Regions from separate parts of the Homo sapiens genome. Here region 1 is linked to region 2. A link means that fine-mapping ties the variant in region 2 to the expression of a gene that starts in the linked region. Tissue or cell type: monocytes. Region 2 holds a variant in brackets; the other region holds the start of a gene. All regions are shown on one strand. Distances are from middle to middle.

What was found. PIP is the estimated chance that this variant, and not a neighbour inherited with it, causes the effect.
Region 1: SERAC1 starts here. The variant in region 2 is fine-mapped to the expression of SERAC1 in monocytes (BLUEPRINT, PIP 0.95). The same link has a PIP of 0.9 or more in neutrophils.

The regions. Positions count from the first base shown.
Region 1 is chr6:158,163,333-158,171,519 of GRCh38, reverse strand. It overlaps SERAC1 (serine active site containing 1), which reads left to right and starts at 3,258. Exons shown (of 17, transcript NM_032861.4): 1 at 3,258-3,380. It overlaps GTF2H5 (general transcription factor IIH subunit 5), which reads right to left and starts at 3,170. Exons shown (of 3, transcript NM_207118.3): 1 at 3,125-3,170; 2 at 982-1,050. The coding sequence starts at 1,016. RefSeq lists silencers at 3,171-3,350, 3,391-3,460.
Region 2 is chr6:158,115,278-158,123,464 of GRCh38, reverse strand. SERAC1 (serine active site containing 1) reads left to right here. Exons shown (of 17, transcript NM_032861.4): 11 at 2,890-3,040; 12 at 4,295-4,436; 13 at 5,644-5,738; 14 at 7,183-7,280. Among named protein-coding and RNA genes, the nearest start is that of SERAC1, 49 kb to the left of the region's middle. RefSeq lists a silencer at 3,162-3,362. The variant G/TG (reference allele first, on the strand shown) is at 4,847.

The DNA.
Region 1 (8,187 bases), 48 kb before region 2:
TTCCTCCCTCCAGCCTCACTGGCTATTTTCTTCTTAGTTGCCTTTGTTGGTGTCTCCTGTATCAAAACTCCAAATCTGCACTATGCATAAGGTAGCCCACTAGTCAGGTCACTACAGAGTCCTTGAAACACGGTTAGTCTGTGAGATGTGCTGTAAAATTAAAATATCCATTCGACTTTGAAGATGAAGATTTTTTTGAAGACTTAGTATGTGTTCAAAGCATAGTGTTTTGCATAGACAGGGTTAAACAAAAGATATTAACTTCACCTGTTTCATTTTACGTTACTTTTAAGATGGCTAGAAAAAATGTAAGACTATATCTGTGGCTTGCATTAGATTTCTATTGGCTAGTGCTGTTCTAAATGTTGGCAGTGTCCTAGGGTTTGGTCTTGCTCCTCCTTAGCCTTGCCATCACAGTAAACAGTATCATTATCCATGCACTGGCTCATATTAGAGGCACCGAAAGTAGACAGTAGTATTTTCAGACAATGGGAGTGTCCACAGAGCAGGGTTCCCGGGGTTCCTGGACACTGGATTGCTTTGAGGAACTCAACTCTGCCCATTTATGGTTTTTAGTTTCTCCTCTGGAATGTACCTAAAGGAATTTAAGAAACCTCCATTTGGCTCTGTTGTTTTTCTCTTTTTTAAAGTCCACAGTTTGTAATGGTAAAGACTTAAGCAAGTTCCTGAACTCTTTCAGGCCCTAAAATTCATCATGTTTGAGGAGAATGCAAGCACTGTTTCTCTAAAGACGACTCATCTAACAAATATGCTGCCTCTGATCATGCCAGTTCCATCAATTCAACAGAGGGACTGAAATCTGGCACCAGGAGCTTTGCAACAAAATCTGTGCCACTTGTTAAAAGCGAAAGACTTGATTTCATCCATATCTTAAAAACAACAGGGTTTTAGAAAAGACATACATACAAGTCAAGATTCAATATTTAAACTTAAAACTCATGCAGTATCAAAACTACTAACCATTCTATAAGCACTCCTTTCAAGACGTTGACCATGTTTTCTCAGAAGGTTCAGATGACCTGAAGAATGCTAATAAAAAGAGTAAGGTAACATTAAATTAAAAATCATTAACTTTCATATACTTTGGGGATCTGCCTCTGAAACGAGGCAAAATAATTAAATGTCAATATTTAACAGTTAAGTCTATGAAAGACAGTTAACATTAAGAAAAAAGACATTCTGATTTTTTAACAAAATTAAAATGAGTCTACTTGGAATATTAATGCCACATCTTACTCGCCAGCCAATTCTACCCAAGGTCAATTAGCCCTAATAGAAGCAAGAGGCCTAACTCTACACCAGTGTGCCCAACCCAGGTATAAACCGTCCATTATTCAAAGGATTTCTTTTCCCATTCAGGAGAATGACAAAGGGTAAGATCCTGGGAGACAGGAATCAAAGAAGATAGTTCTGAAAGGTGCTTCAAAAATTATACAGTGAGCCCAACCACCTCCTTTTAGTTTATATTTTATTTTACTGAGACAGGGTCTGGCTCTGCCGCCCAGGCTGTAGTGCAGTGGCGCGATCTCTGCTCCCTGCAACCTCTTGCCTCCTGGGTTCAAGCGATCCTCCCACCTCAGCCTCCCGAGTAGCTGGGACTACAGGCATGCACTACTAAGCCCAGCTAATGTACTGTGTTGTATCGTGTGTGTGTGTGTGTATATATATACACACTTTTATATATAATATATAATATACAATATATAATATATAATATACAATATATTATATATAATATACAATATATTATATAATATATAATATACAATATATTATATAATATATAATATACAATATATTATATAATATATATTATATATTATATAATATACAATATATTATATGTAATATACAATATATGTAATATACAATATATTATATGTAATATACAATATATGTAATATACAATATATTATATATAATATACAATATATTATATATAATATACAGTATATTATATATAATATACTGTATATTATATATAATATACAATATATTATATAATATACAATATATTATATATAATATACAATATAATATATATAATATATAATATATATAATATACAATATATTATATATAATATATAATATACAATATAATATTATATATAATATATAATATACATATTATATATATGTATTATATATAATATACGTATTATATATAATATACATAATATACATATTATATATTATATATAAAATAAATATATATTATATATAAAATACATATATAATATATATATATGTATATATACACTTCGAGACAGAGTCTCACTCTGTCGCCCAGGCTGGAGCGCAGTGTCGTGATGTCGGCTCACTGCAACCTCTGCCTCCCGGGCTCAAGCGATTCTCCTGCCTCAGCCTCCCAAGCAGCGGGGACTACAGGCGCCCGCCACCACGCCAGGCCAAATTTTGTATTTTTAGTAGAGGCAGGGTTTCACCATGTTGGCCAGGCTGGTCTCGAACTCCTGATCTCAAATGATCCACCTACCTCGGCCTCCCAAAGTGCTGGGACAACAGGTGTGAGCCACCGCGCCAGGCCAATTTATTGTATTTTTAGTGGAGACGGGGTTTCACCATGTTGGCCAGGCTGGTCTCGAACTCCTGGCCTCAAGTGATTTGCCCGCCTCGGCCTCCCAATGTGCTGGGATTGCAGGCGTGAGCCACCGCGCCCGGCCTCAGCCACCTCATTTTACATATGAGGAGACCAAAGGAAGAGATTAAGCCGTAGTTCCTGGCCAAAGGAAAAAAGTACAAGCCAGATCTCCAGATCTTGTGCCCCTTCACTAAATAAATCACGTCCCGTGCGGACCTAGGCTGGAAACAAACCACTCAGCGTACGCCCATTTAATTAACTTCCACTTACACCTGGGCGCAGGGCGAGCCCTAGCCCCACAGGAAACCCACGATTAAACGAGGGGGGGACTGCCGTGCGGCCCCGCCAGGAAGGGCCCGGAGAGAGTGGGGGACACCGCCCTGTGCCCCCAGCACCCGGTGGACAGGCTTCTGGGGCTTTTCTCTTCCTCTCCCCTTTCTTTGGGACCCCTCAGTGTTCCCACACCCCACTTTCCCCAGCCGCTCGGACGCTCGCCACACACCTCGGCCCACAGATGCAGAAGCGCCTCGGCGTTGCCGGCAGAGTGCGCCTGCGCCGATACGCCATCGCGCTAGGGACGCTATTGTGGGTGGAGCCAGCCGGCGGGAGGCGGGCCCAGAGCGGGCCGAGGGGGCGGGGTCACGAGCCGCCAGCCGCCGGGTGGAGGGTCCCGGCCGGGAGCCGCGGAAAGAGTAGGGCTCCCCAGACAACGGGGTCCGACGAGCAGTTGGGCACGGGCTGAGTCCGCCTGCCGGCAGGTAGGACGTGAAGGCAGGGGTGGTGTGGGGGCGGACGGGGGCGTCGGCGCAGCTGGGCGCGGTGGGGAGCGGAGAATGGGGAGGGCAGGGACCGGGCACGGCCGAGCACCGCCGTCTGGCGCGCGGACCGGACCGACCAGCTGACGCTCGGCTGGGCGTGAGGGCCTCTCTCTCTGGTGGTCGCGAGCCTGACTCGTCTTTCCCTGTCGCTGCCTTTCTCTGGCTGCTGTCGAGGCCTTGGGGAGTGCACCTGCCGGTCCGTCTTCCCGGGCTCGGTAGTCACGGAGAGATGAGGAGGAGGAGGAAAGGGCCTCACCAGTCACTTCTGAGCCTTGCAGACCACCGCTTCCTGCTCCCTCTCTAACCCCAGAGATGGAATAGATTGAATGCTGAGAGAGCTCTAAACTCGGCAACGGTCATTTTAAAGTGAAAGACCCCAGAAGGTTCTAAAGTTACTCCCTTTCCCCAAGTCTGTTCTGTAAGTCTAAAGGAACACTGTCATTATTTTTACTAGTTGAGATATGAGATTCTTGTTTTCTGTTCCTTAGGTTAAATTGTACTTCCCGCATTAAGCTCATGCTGCCTTTTTTTTTTTTTTTTTTGAGATGGAGTCTCGGTCTGTCTGCCAGGCTGGAGTGCAGTGGCGCGATCTGGGCTCACTGCAACCTCCGTCTCCTGGGTTCAAGCAATTATCCTGCCTCATTCTCCCTAGTAACTGGGATTACAGGCGTGCGCTACCACGCCCGGCTGATTTTCGTATTTTTAGTAGACACGGGGTTTGTCCATGTTGGCCAGGCTGGTCTGGAATTCCTGACATCAGGTGATCCCCCGCCTCGGCCTCCCAGAGTGCTGCGATTACAGGTGTGAGCCACCGCGCCCGACCTCATGCTGCCTTTTTTTTTTTTTTTTTTTTTTTAACATCGTGTGTGTTCATGTGATCGCTAAGGAACCCAGCTCTTCCATTTAGTTCCCTCTTTCTATCCCTCAAATCTTTTCCAACTGGTGATTTCCATATTGTTGCACTCTCTTTAAAATAAAAAAATTGCCTCCAAGTCTTCTTCTTCCCAAGTATCTTTTATTTGCTTTTTTTCATCTTGCATACATTCTCTTCCTTGATCTCATCAGTTCCATTTTTGTGCACTTGATGTGTGTCAGCTATTATTCTAGACGCTTGGGATACAATGGTGAACAGGTAACTAATTTTGGTGGGGGCAGAGAGACTCTGAAATCAGTTAAGGAATAAGTACCATTTGGTGATGTGATAAAGAGTGACTAGAGGGGTTATTTTGGCCAGGGGGATGTCAGAAATGGCCTTAATTTCTGCATTTAAAAACTTCTGTATACCAGTAACAATTAACTAGGAGTTTTAATAATAAAAAGACACTATTCATAATGGCATTCAAAACTAAAGGTACCTAGAAATAGATGAACCTAAAGCTGTGTAGTCCTTTAGACAGAAAATTGTAAGGCTCTGTTGGAACACAAAAGATGACCCAAGTAAATGGTGAGATATACCGTATTAATAGATGGAAAGACTCAACAAAAAGATGTCAGTTTTCCTCAGTTCTACGAATTCAGTGTAATGCCAATTAAAATCACCATATTGTTTTATGGAATTTGCCATGCTGAACTTAAAATTTATATGGAAAGGCAAGGGACCAAGAATAGTGAAGTCAATTTTGAAGAAGAAGAAAAATAAGGTCTCTCCCTATCAGATACCAAAGCTTAATATAAAGTTGTAATTATTAAGATGGTATGATATTGATTCAGGGATAGAGAATTAGATTCATGGAACAGAATAGAGACACTAGAAACATACCTATTTACATACGGGAGTTTAGTATACCACTAAGTGGTATTGCAAAGCAGGGGGAAAGCATAGACTATTCAATAAAGGATGATGAAATATATGGTTGCTGAGATATCTGGCATTGTTATGGTATACAGACAGGATTAGATTCTTACTTTCAAACTATTGACAACAGTTTCCAGATAAAGACCTAAATGTGAATGGCACAGCTGCAAGGTATTTGGAAAGGAATATAAGAGACCATTGTCTCTAGGAAAGATTTCTTTTTTGTTTGCTTTGTTAAATCTTGTTACACATAAGATTTATCATGTTAACCATGTTGAGTTGTTGAGTTCAGTGACATTCACATTGTGCAACCAGCACTACTATCTATCTCCAGAACTTTTTTTTTAAATGTCTCTGAGAAGGATTTCTTAAGTTACAAAAAGCACCTTTGAGGTGTCATTTTATTACTCCAAATGAGAGATGATGTTGGCTTGAACTAGACAAGAGTGTAGCAGTGAATACAGAGAAAAATGGATGGATTTGGGGGTATGTTTTGATGGTAGAGAAGAGCAACTCTGCGTGGTTTAGATGTAGAGTAAGGGGAAAACAAGGAATCAAGGGCAACATCTGTTTTTTTGCTTCAGTTAAGAGGTAGATCATTTACCATTTACAATCAAAAAGCATTGACCATTTGATGGATAGTGATGGAGAAGATTTGTGGAGGAAGAGTTTGGGGAGAAAAAGTAAAGAATTCTCTTTTGGACAGTTGAGTATGAAAGGCCTGTTGGACATCCAAGTGGAAATGTTCCAATAGCTGTTGGATAGATAGGTCAGGAAAGATCGTAGCTAGAGGTACTCTGAGATCACTGGCATATAGATATTAAGAACTGGGCCGGGCACGGTGGCTCACGCTTGTAATCCCAGCACTTTGGTAGGCCGAGGCGGGTGGATCACGAGGTCAGGAGATTGAGACCATCCTGGATAACACGGTGAAACCCCGTCTGTACTAAAAATACAAAAAAATAGCTGGGCGTGGTGGCAGCCGCCTGTAGTCCCAGCTACTTGGGAGGCTGAGGCAGGAGAATGGTGTGAACCTGGGAGACGGAGTTTGCAGTGAGCCGAGATCGCGCCACTGCACTCCAGCCTGGGTGACAGAGTGAGAGACTCTGTCTCAAAAAAAAAACCAAAAAACAAAAAACTGTGGTGTGTTGGAATCAGCTGTGTTACACAGAAAACAAGATAATACTGGCTTAAATATGTATGTAATTGCATAGGTAGGCAGCCATGCTTTTATGGAAGCAGCTCTGTAATCATCAGGGACTCGGATTCTTCTATCTGGCTGCTCTACCGTCCTTAATAAGATGCTTGGTGTTAAGATGACTGCTTTAATTCAAACTGTCAGTTGCTCATTCTAGCAAGAGGGAGGAGGGAAGGAGGAAGAAAGGCACATACCCTTCTTTTTAAGGACACTTTTCAGAAATTGCACATGACACATCCACTCATATTTCATTAGCCAATTCTTTGTAAGTGCCCATAGTTAACTAGAAAGAAAGAAAGGTGATGTAGTCTTTTTTGTTGTCTGTGTACCTAGCTACAACTCACGTTTTATTAATCAGAATGAAAGCATGAAATGATGTTTCACTCTGGCTTCCTCCACCAGGGCAATGAAGCTACTGATATGAAGATCCCAGTGACCTCCATATTGTTAAACTTAATGGAATTTTCAAATATTTGTTTTATTTTTAAATTATAATCTCTTCCCTTTTATTTTCTGTGTCTTTCTTAGTCTCAAAATTTCTCCGTTCTCTACTTAAAATCAGTGTTTCAGATTTTATGTAATCACCGTCATAATATATATATATATTTTTTTGAGATGGAGTCTCGCTCTGTCGCCCAGGCTGGACTGCCGTGGCGCAATCTTTGCTCACTGCAAGCTGCACCTCCTAGTTTCACGCCATTCTCCTGCCTCAGCCTCCTGAGTAGCTGGGACTACAGGTGCCCGCCACCACACCCAGCTAATTTTTTGAATTTTTAGTAGAGATGGGGTTTCACCGGGTTATCCAGGCTGGTCTCGATCTCCTGACCTCGTGATCCTCCTGCCTCGGCCTCCCAAAGTGCTGGGATTACAGGCGTGAGCCACCGTGCCTGGCCCCATAATCTTAAAGGTGCTTTTAAATAGAAATTGACAAGCAGACTCTAAAATTATGTGGAAGTACCAAGGACCTAGAATAGTCCGTCTTGAAAAGGAAGGACACAGCTGGAAAATTTATACTACTAGCTTCAAGACTTACTTTAAAAACTACAGTAATCTGCCTGGTGCGGTGGCTCACACCTGTAATCCCAGCACTTTGGGAAGCCGAGGCGGGTGGATCACGAGGTCAAGAGTTCAAGACCAGCCTGGCCAAGATGGTGAAACCCTGTCTCTACCCAAAATACAAAAATTAGCCAGGTATGGTGGTGGGCATCTGTAATCCCAGCTACTTGGGAGGCTGAGGCAGGAGAATTGCTTGAACCTGGGAGGCGGAGGTTGCAGTGAGCTGAGATCAGGCCACTGCACTCCATCCTGCCTGGGCGACAGAGTGAGACTCTGTCAAAAAGAAAACAAAAAACAACAAAAAACCTACATAATCTAAACAGTGCAGTGTTTATATAAGGATAGATAAATAGATCGATGGAGTGGAATAGGTCCATACATATGTATTCCATTAGGGTTTTTTGTTTGTTTGTTTTGAGATGTGGGTCTCACTGTATTGCCTAGGCTGGTGTTGGGCTCCTGAGCTCCAGCAGTCCTCCTGCCTCAGGCTTCTGAGTAGCTGGTATTACAGGCATGTGCCGCAGATATAGTCAGTTGATTTGTGGTCTCAAGCAATCATCCCACCTTGGCCTCCCAAATCACTGGGATTATAGGCATGAGCCACCACACTTGGCCCTATGGTATACTTTTTATTGTTATTTTATAGTGTATTCATCTATTCCCTCTACTTATAAAAAAATAAAATTTACTGTAAAACA
Region 2 (8,187 bases):
TTACTGAGACAATTGAAGCCCTAAAAGGAATTTTCTCACTAACAAAAACCAAACCCTGTTCTTTCCTTTTCTTGGTAATAGGAAAAGAGACACCTCTTTTATAAGCCCTCCAGCCATGTTTGGGCCTGTCTCCTTTCACAGTCTCAGGAATGTATACTTTTTTCTGGTCTCATGGTCAGCTGCTGCCTCATAGCTGGACCCTCTGATCACATACATTGGAGGAAGATGTGAAAAACATAATCTGCATCCCCTATAACATCCTGTCCTCCCTGTTATAGCTAAACTTCTGAAAGAGTTACCTACATATACCTTCTTTTTGCTCAGCCTTCATTACTTCTCAGTACTCCAATTTGAATTCTGCTAACTTGCCCTGTGTTTTTTTCTCTTTAGGCATCCTGTGTCTTTCCCTCTTTTTATATATTTTGTATCAATCTTAGTATCAGATCTGCAGATTTTTGCCTTCAGATTTACAAAAGTTGGAGCAACCTAAATGTCTGCCAATAGGAATGAATAGTGGTTAAACAATGGCGTACTCATGTGACGTAATACTATAGTTCAAAGGAATGAAGTTGATATATATAGAGAGCTCTCCAAGACATACTGCTGAAGTACAGACACAGAACAGTAGTATGATTCCATTTAGGTTTCAAAAAGTGCACATAGAGCTACATTTTTCTTTTTCTTTGAGACAGCGTCTCACTCTGTTGCCCAGGCTGGAGTGCAGTGGCGCTATCTTGGCTCCCTGCAACCTCCACCTCCCGGGTTCAAGTGATTCTCATGCCTCAGCCTTCTGAGTCGCTGGGATTACAGGCGCCCACCACCACACCCGGCTAATTTTGTAATTTTAGTAGAGATGGGGTTTCACATGTTGGCCAGGCTGGTCTTGAACTCCTGACCTCAAGTGATCTGCCTGCCTCAGCCTCCCAAAGTGTTGGGATTACAGGCATGAAACACCACGCCTGGCCCATTGTATGTGTTTAAATTATAGATATATGACTATATTTTTCAAAAGGGTGTCCACCAAACTTCTACCTTTCATTACTCTGAGGATGTAAATGGAGTTGGGAAATTATGGGAGTACTAAAGCAAGACTTTCATCATTAGATGCTACTTTTAGTTATTTCATTATTTTTTACAGTTAACATGTACAGACATGCATTGCTTAATAGTGGAGAAACATTCTGAGGAATGTATCGTTAGGCAGTTTTGTCACTGTGCAAACATCGCAAAGTATACTTACACAAACCTGGATGGTAGCACCTATTCCACACCTAGGCTGTATGGGACAGCCTATTGCTCCTAGGCTCCAAACCTATACAGCAGGTTACTGTACTGAACACTGTAGACAGTTGTAACACAATGGGAAATATTTGAGTATCTAAACACAGCTAAACATAGAAAAGGCACAGCAAAAATACTGTACTATAATCTTATGGGATCACCATAGTATTTGTGGTTCATTGTTGACTGAAACATTATTATGTGTTTTGCATGAGTGCATTCAGATGTTATATAATTTTAAAATGCTCAATGTTAAAGAAGTAAGTTTTCCAAAGGGCATTTGATATTTTTCAAAGGTGGAGTATCTCGGACATTGTGAACATATTTTGTCAACTGAAAAAAGCCAGAGATGGCTTGTACCATGCTTTTTCTTGTGACTTCATTAAAAATAAAGCCGTATTTTCATATATACCAATAACATACTTGTCTATCTCTATAGATATAATTTTTAAATATTCTTATTTTATTATTTTAAAATCTTTAACAGATTTTGAAGAGGAATCTTCTGATGTTATAAATTTGAATATTGTTAAGTACTGAGTCTGAAGCTTCTTTTAGGTTATTAAATGCTAGCTTCCCATCATCACAGTGACTCAACACTTTTGTCGTAAAGAGTGGGAGAAGGGCATGGGGACAGCTGTCGTGTATTGAGTGCCTGCTGGGCCTGGGCCCACGGTTTTCACATACATTAGTTTATTAAAACCTTCCTCTAGTTCAGTTGCTAAATAACTTGACTGAGGTTCCAGAGCAAGTAAGGAGGGAGCAGAAATGTGAGCCCAAGTCTAACTTCAAGGCCCATATTCTGCTTTATTTTAAATTAAATAAATTATATAAATAAATACATAGATTTTTCACCGTACTTCAGAAAATAGATATAGCGAAAAAGCTAAACATACGTTTTTTACAGAGCCCTCTTCTACCCTATCTCTCTCCTAAAAGGTAACGACTTTATAAGTTTAGTGTATAGATCTTTGTGTGTTTGTGTATGTGTGTGCACATGTACTTTTATATTTATGTATATAAAGTTTTAAAAACAAAAACATTAAAAAAAAGAAATCATAGCATAGATAGTATTATCCATGCATTTTCTGTTTGCCTCCCTTTAAAAAATGTTTTTTCCTTCCTGATCTCCAGATTCTACAAGAGTTTTGTGTCTCAAATTCATTGTTAAGAAATAGTTTCTTCATTTGTATGAAAGGGTATTACTGATTGCTGGTCAGGATGAAATAACTAGTATTAACCCACTGAGTTTCATAATTCTTGTTAAAAGCAAAACATCATGGTATTTTGTTCACTTTTGTGAACACCTCTATAACTGCTATGAACACCTCTATAATTGGTATTAGTGTTAGGCTTTCTAAATAAAGAAAATGGCTCTTCAACCCCTCTTTCCTTCTTTGAGGTCCCTTAAGGGGTATGTGGATGGTATTGTGCCACAGGTCTCAGAGGATCGTAGGGCAGAATGGGGTTGGAATAGTCGGACTTCTCCGCCAAGGACAGACACGCAAGGTTTGCCTTTCTCCCATCATATTCAGTTTGAAACCTCACTCTCTCTGTGGTCTGCGATGGATTCACATCAGTATTTAGGATATGTGTACTTTTCACCAGGCTGGGTTTCCATCATGGCAGAAGCAATGAAATCTCCCCACATTATGGAGTCCTCACACGCTGCCAGAATCCTGGCAAATCTAGACCGAGAAACTGTGCAAGAAAAATATCAGGATGGCGTATATGTGCTGCATCCCCAATATCGAACAAGGTAAGGAAGCAGAAGAGAGTTGCTTTGTCCCCTTTGGAAATGTGAAGCCTAGAGGCCTCAAATTTTTAACTTATTTCTGCATAATTCAGATAAGTTAAATAACTTATAAGTCAAATATCTTATTTACTAAAATAATTTGTCTATAGTAACCACAAAAGAATTGGAGGTTGTCATGAAAAGTATGTGAACTAGCTAAATTGTCATGGTTATTTTACAAAGGGCTTCCCTTCAGTTAGGTGGCATTCACATTTGATAATGCGTCACACTTAAACTTTGTAATACATATCTCCTTTGGTTCAAGGCATTTTCACTTAGATCTGAGTTAATAACTGATTTGGATTGTAGAAGTCAGCTGAATAGGAAGGAGATAAGACATTGTCTTATGTGGCAACCAAATTAGCCTGGGCCTAGAACTCAAGGGACTGGAGAAAGTTTATGCTAGTTATAAAAGGATGCATTAGAAAGAATAAGTTGTAATAAGTTTGACTCATGCCCCTTCTTAAGGTTATTTGTGGTCATTATATCTAGTTGTATAATTGCTAAGACAATAAATATAGAAGGGACCACACTGAAAAAATAACATATTTCTTGGTTTTCTTAGGGCACTTTACAAAAAGTACCTCAGAAAATAGCAAAAACTTTTAAATTAAAAAGTGGATTACCTGGTTAATTACAATTTGTAAATAAAATATTATGGTTATATATGTGCATTGCATAATTGTATGTGTACTGTAAATAGCTTGCAACTAACATACTATCTACAGTTTTTAATGCGTCATATGCAATGAGTGAATGTTACTTTGAAATCTCATTTTATAAGTATTAGTTTCCTTAACACATTTTTGAAAATCTCTTTTATATATACTGACTTTGAAACTGTTATTAGCACGTTCTTCTTTAATTTCTTAAATACTTTTATTGATTTGTAGAATATTCTCAAATGGAAGTCTTTAGAGGGTAATCTATGACATCTGTCAGTTGATTGATTGCTAAGCTCATTACAATTGATTGTGGTTGGTCTGCCTGACTAGAATAGTCTCCATTTTTAGAGAACAGTGAACATGCTTCATGTATGTCTTTGCCAAAGCTCCTTCTAGGTTTTCCCAGCAAACCTGTGCTTATAGAGCTTGCTTTAATTCAGTTTTATGTCACATAAGCCTGCTAAAGCACCATCCACAGAGAATGCTGTGTAGATTCTTACCAAAGCAGTAATGCATTTATTCTGCTTCTTTTTAAAACTCTCTCCCCTATTAGTCAGCCCATTAAAGCAGATGTCCTTTTTATTCATGGCCTTATGGGAGCAGCATTCAAAACATGGCGCCAGCAGGACAGTGAGCAGGCTGTAATTGAAAAACCTATGGAGGATGAAGACAGATATACGACGTGCTGGCCCAAGGTAAGGGAGCCACTGACTCTGGCCCTGGTTGCTGGGGCCCTGGTTGCTGGGGCCCTGATTGTGGCTTGCTTGTTTTTCTCTTTGTTCTGGGATTTTTTTCCCATGCAGTTCTTCTTTCCCTTAGGGAGATTTGTAGTATGTTTTGACAACAACTGGGCTTGTCACCCTATGTTGTATAATTTCCATTTGGGGTGCAGTGTATGACTCAAAAAATATTCTATTAAGTAAAAAATAGGGGCAAGAGCCAGTAATAGTTCACTTTTGTTGTAATATAATACAAAAATAACATAACAATACTTACATTTATAATAGTTACCTAATTCTATGACCTTAATAATTACAAAAATAGAAAGTCTTTGAAGAAGTAATTATACTTTGCATTTCTTTCCTTCTTTTTTTTTTTTTTTTTT[G/TG]AGATGAGGGTCTCATTTTGTCACCCAGACTGGAGTGCAGTGGTGCGATCCTAGCGCACTGCAGTCTCAACCTCCCAGGCTCAAACAGTCATTCCCCCTCAGCCTCCTGAGTAGCTGGGACCACAGGCACATGCCATCATGCCTGGCTAATTAATACTTTACATTTCTTTGATACTATTTCTCCCAAAGAACCTTAATTCTGGAATGAATTCATTGAATGGAATTTATCTAAAGCTCATTTAAAAGTGATGCTGCATATACGTGTGAATAGTTTTTAGGGCATTGTTCCATTACTACTTATTCTCCTTCACAAAGGCTTATCAAGTAGAAGAATGATTTGCACTTTCTGGTGGCACTGAAGTACAGAGATGATGATAGACCTAGGGTATACAGAGATAGAACTGTGATGATTATTATTAGTGTCTCTGAATTCTCAGATCCAAAATCTGTCAGACTATGCCATCTGTCCTGAGATTATAGCATTCTACTAAATTCTTTCAAAAAGCCAACTTGATCTAGACTTTAAAACAGGCCTTGCTTTTGGCTATAGCAGCTTAAAATGGAAAATATTCTCTTGAAACCTTCATTGGCCTTATGCTATAAATACTGGTACCACTTCGAGACCAGAGACTTGAAAAGATAGTGCTGGAATTGTTTTTACGGTACCTTCAAACCTTATTCCAGTGCTATCTTTAATTATAGTGCAAGAGGCCTTTAGTTATAAATTTGATTTACTAGGCAGTAATTGCAGTGGTGAAGATTCATACTTGTTCTCACATATGTTTTATTTTACTTAGACATGGTTAGCAAAAGACTGTCCTGCTCTCCGAATTATATCTGTGGAGTATGACACCAGCCTCAGCGACTGGAGAGCAAGGTGCCCTATGGAAAGGTAACAGAGGCGACTTTAGACCAGGAGGACAGGGAAGAATTCAGGCCGCAAGTTTAGGTCCTCTTGGATGGGAAGTGATTTTAATTTTTTGATGCCACAGACAGGATTTTCTTATGAAGAACAAACCTAATCTTTTTTGTCTTCCTTCTAGAAGGAGTTTGCTGTCAATAAGCAGTGGAATAGTAGAAGGCTTAGGTATATCACCAATGGTGGGCTCCTAACATGGTTTATTTACAACTGTTCTAATAGTGAAGGATCGTGGATTGTCTAGCAGTCTCCTTTTCTATCAGAAGTAAAAGTGATGTTTTTTTGTTCTTGTGTCCACAATCATACTGGCTAAAGGAAGCAAAGAGAAAGATGCTGAGAAATATCAGCTGCTATTTCCCTTGTATGTCATCTGTGCCAGTTGTATACATGGGAAGGAGTGCTGGATTTCAGAGTTACTGGACTGAGAGTAGCCGGATCCTACCTTTGATTTGCTGTGCAGTCTTAGACCAGTCAGTTAACTTTTCCGGGAAGCTTTGTCTACAGATTGACAGAGTTGGTCTAAATCAGTGTTATCAAACTGCTTTCTGAATGAACCTCCCGTAGGTGCCCAAGAAGGGTGTCAAGGTGAGCAGGCAAGACCCCAGGTCTCCCTCCCCATTTCACCCAGAGGAGCTCTGGAGAACCTTTATTTTGAAGAAATGTGTCTACAAATAAACAGTTTGAAACTACCAGACTAGATAGTTTTGAAGTTCCTCTTTAGTTTAAAAATTACTTATTTCGAATTCTGATTCTATTAGCATCCTGTTTATGCTAGTTATAAAAGCATGCATTGGAAGGAATAAGTGCTAATAAACTTGACTCATTCTAGTTTTTCTAAATAGCACCCTAGTATTTCTAAAGAATAAACCAAAATTATGAAAGCTTAATATTTTTGCAGCCTAACTACCAGTAGAGAGACCACAGTCTTTGGTGATACTTTCATTGTCAGGCCTTGGATGAAAAAGGACATCCATATCCTAAGTGTTGGAGGGCAGTTGCAGGGAGACCCACATTTGACCCGAAAAAATTGCCTGACACAGGTGCTCCAACAATGTTCATGCAGTAAATGAATGGCCTGTTCTGGGCTTAGATATTCCTAATTAGGCCAATGTTAATAAGTTACAAATAGAGAATTAACGATTTCAGGAATTGAGCAGAGAGATCCCAGGCGTGGTGGCTCATGCCTATAATCCTAGTGCTTTGGGAGGCCGAGGTGGGAGGATTCCTTGGGGCCAGGAGTTCAATAAGAGAGAATAGGGGTATTTTATATTAAGCAGAGAGAATGGGGGTATTTCTTACTCTAAATGTAGTATGTAGCATTGGTCCTGTAGACTAAAGTTCTTAACTCTAAAAATTAGACAGCAAATTGAGGGGATCGATAGCCTTGTGTCATGCCTGCTGTTTTTGTTTTGTTCAGAAAGTCCATTGCATTCAGAAGCAACGAACTTCTTAGGAAGCTCAGAGCTGCTGGTGTTGGGGATAGGCCAGTGGTTTGGATATCACATAGCATGGGAGGTAAGTGTGGCTTCAACTTTGTGAAGTGGCCATTGTGATGTTATTTTCAGCCACTGTGGCCAACCTAAAGTTATTTTATCTTTCCATTTTACTTAATAGCGGCTCCCTTACCCCCCCTGCTAAATTAATCTGTGTAGCTATGGCTAGGACTTTTAAAATTACTACTCTTGTTCCATGCTGTTCCTTTCTCTAGAAAAGGGCAACCTGTTACAAATCATCTAAGAGGGATATGGGTTTGACAGCGTAGTGCTTTCACATAGCGGTAATGAATAAACATGAGAAGCAGCCCGTTTCATATACACCCACCTCGTCAACATGCCTCAGCATTCTTGGGTGGCCCCAGGGGTGCCCCTTTATTCTTCCTGCTCCCCCTCACCATTGCAGTCTATGGTCGCTTTAGTGCCCACAGTCCCAGACTCTGGGTGCCTGCTCACACCAGGCCCAGAGCTGCTGAGGTACAGGTGTGATCAAGTGTCTGTTCTTGGGGTCCTAGTGGTTGCTTATGGAATGGCCTCCCCTGTGTGCGACTCCCCCAGTCCACTTTGAAATTTTCACCACCCACCTTGCAGAAGGCCTTTCTGCAGCCCGTGGCCTAGTTTATCTGATGAAGCACTCAGGATTGCCTCTGAGGTGGGGATTTTTGCTGAGACAAAGGTGGGTGTAGCCCTTCGTGTCCTCAAAGACCTACTGTCATCATCCTTTAGATCTTTGTGTTTCATTATCGGTTCCAAAGCCGGGGCAGGGGGATGGAAGAAAAGGTGCCTCCAGAGGAACAGTTCCCATGAAAGCTGTGTTCTCCATGGGGGACTGTGTGCTGTGGAATAGTAGCACTGTCCTGACAGTGTGGTCATCAGCGGTCTGCCATAGCAGGCTGAGAGACCAGCCACACCACGCTCATGTCCTGAGG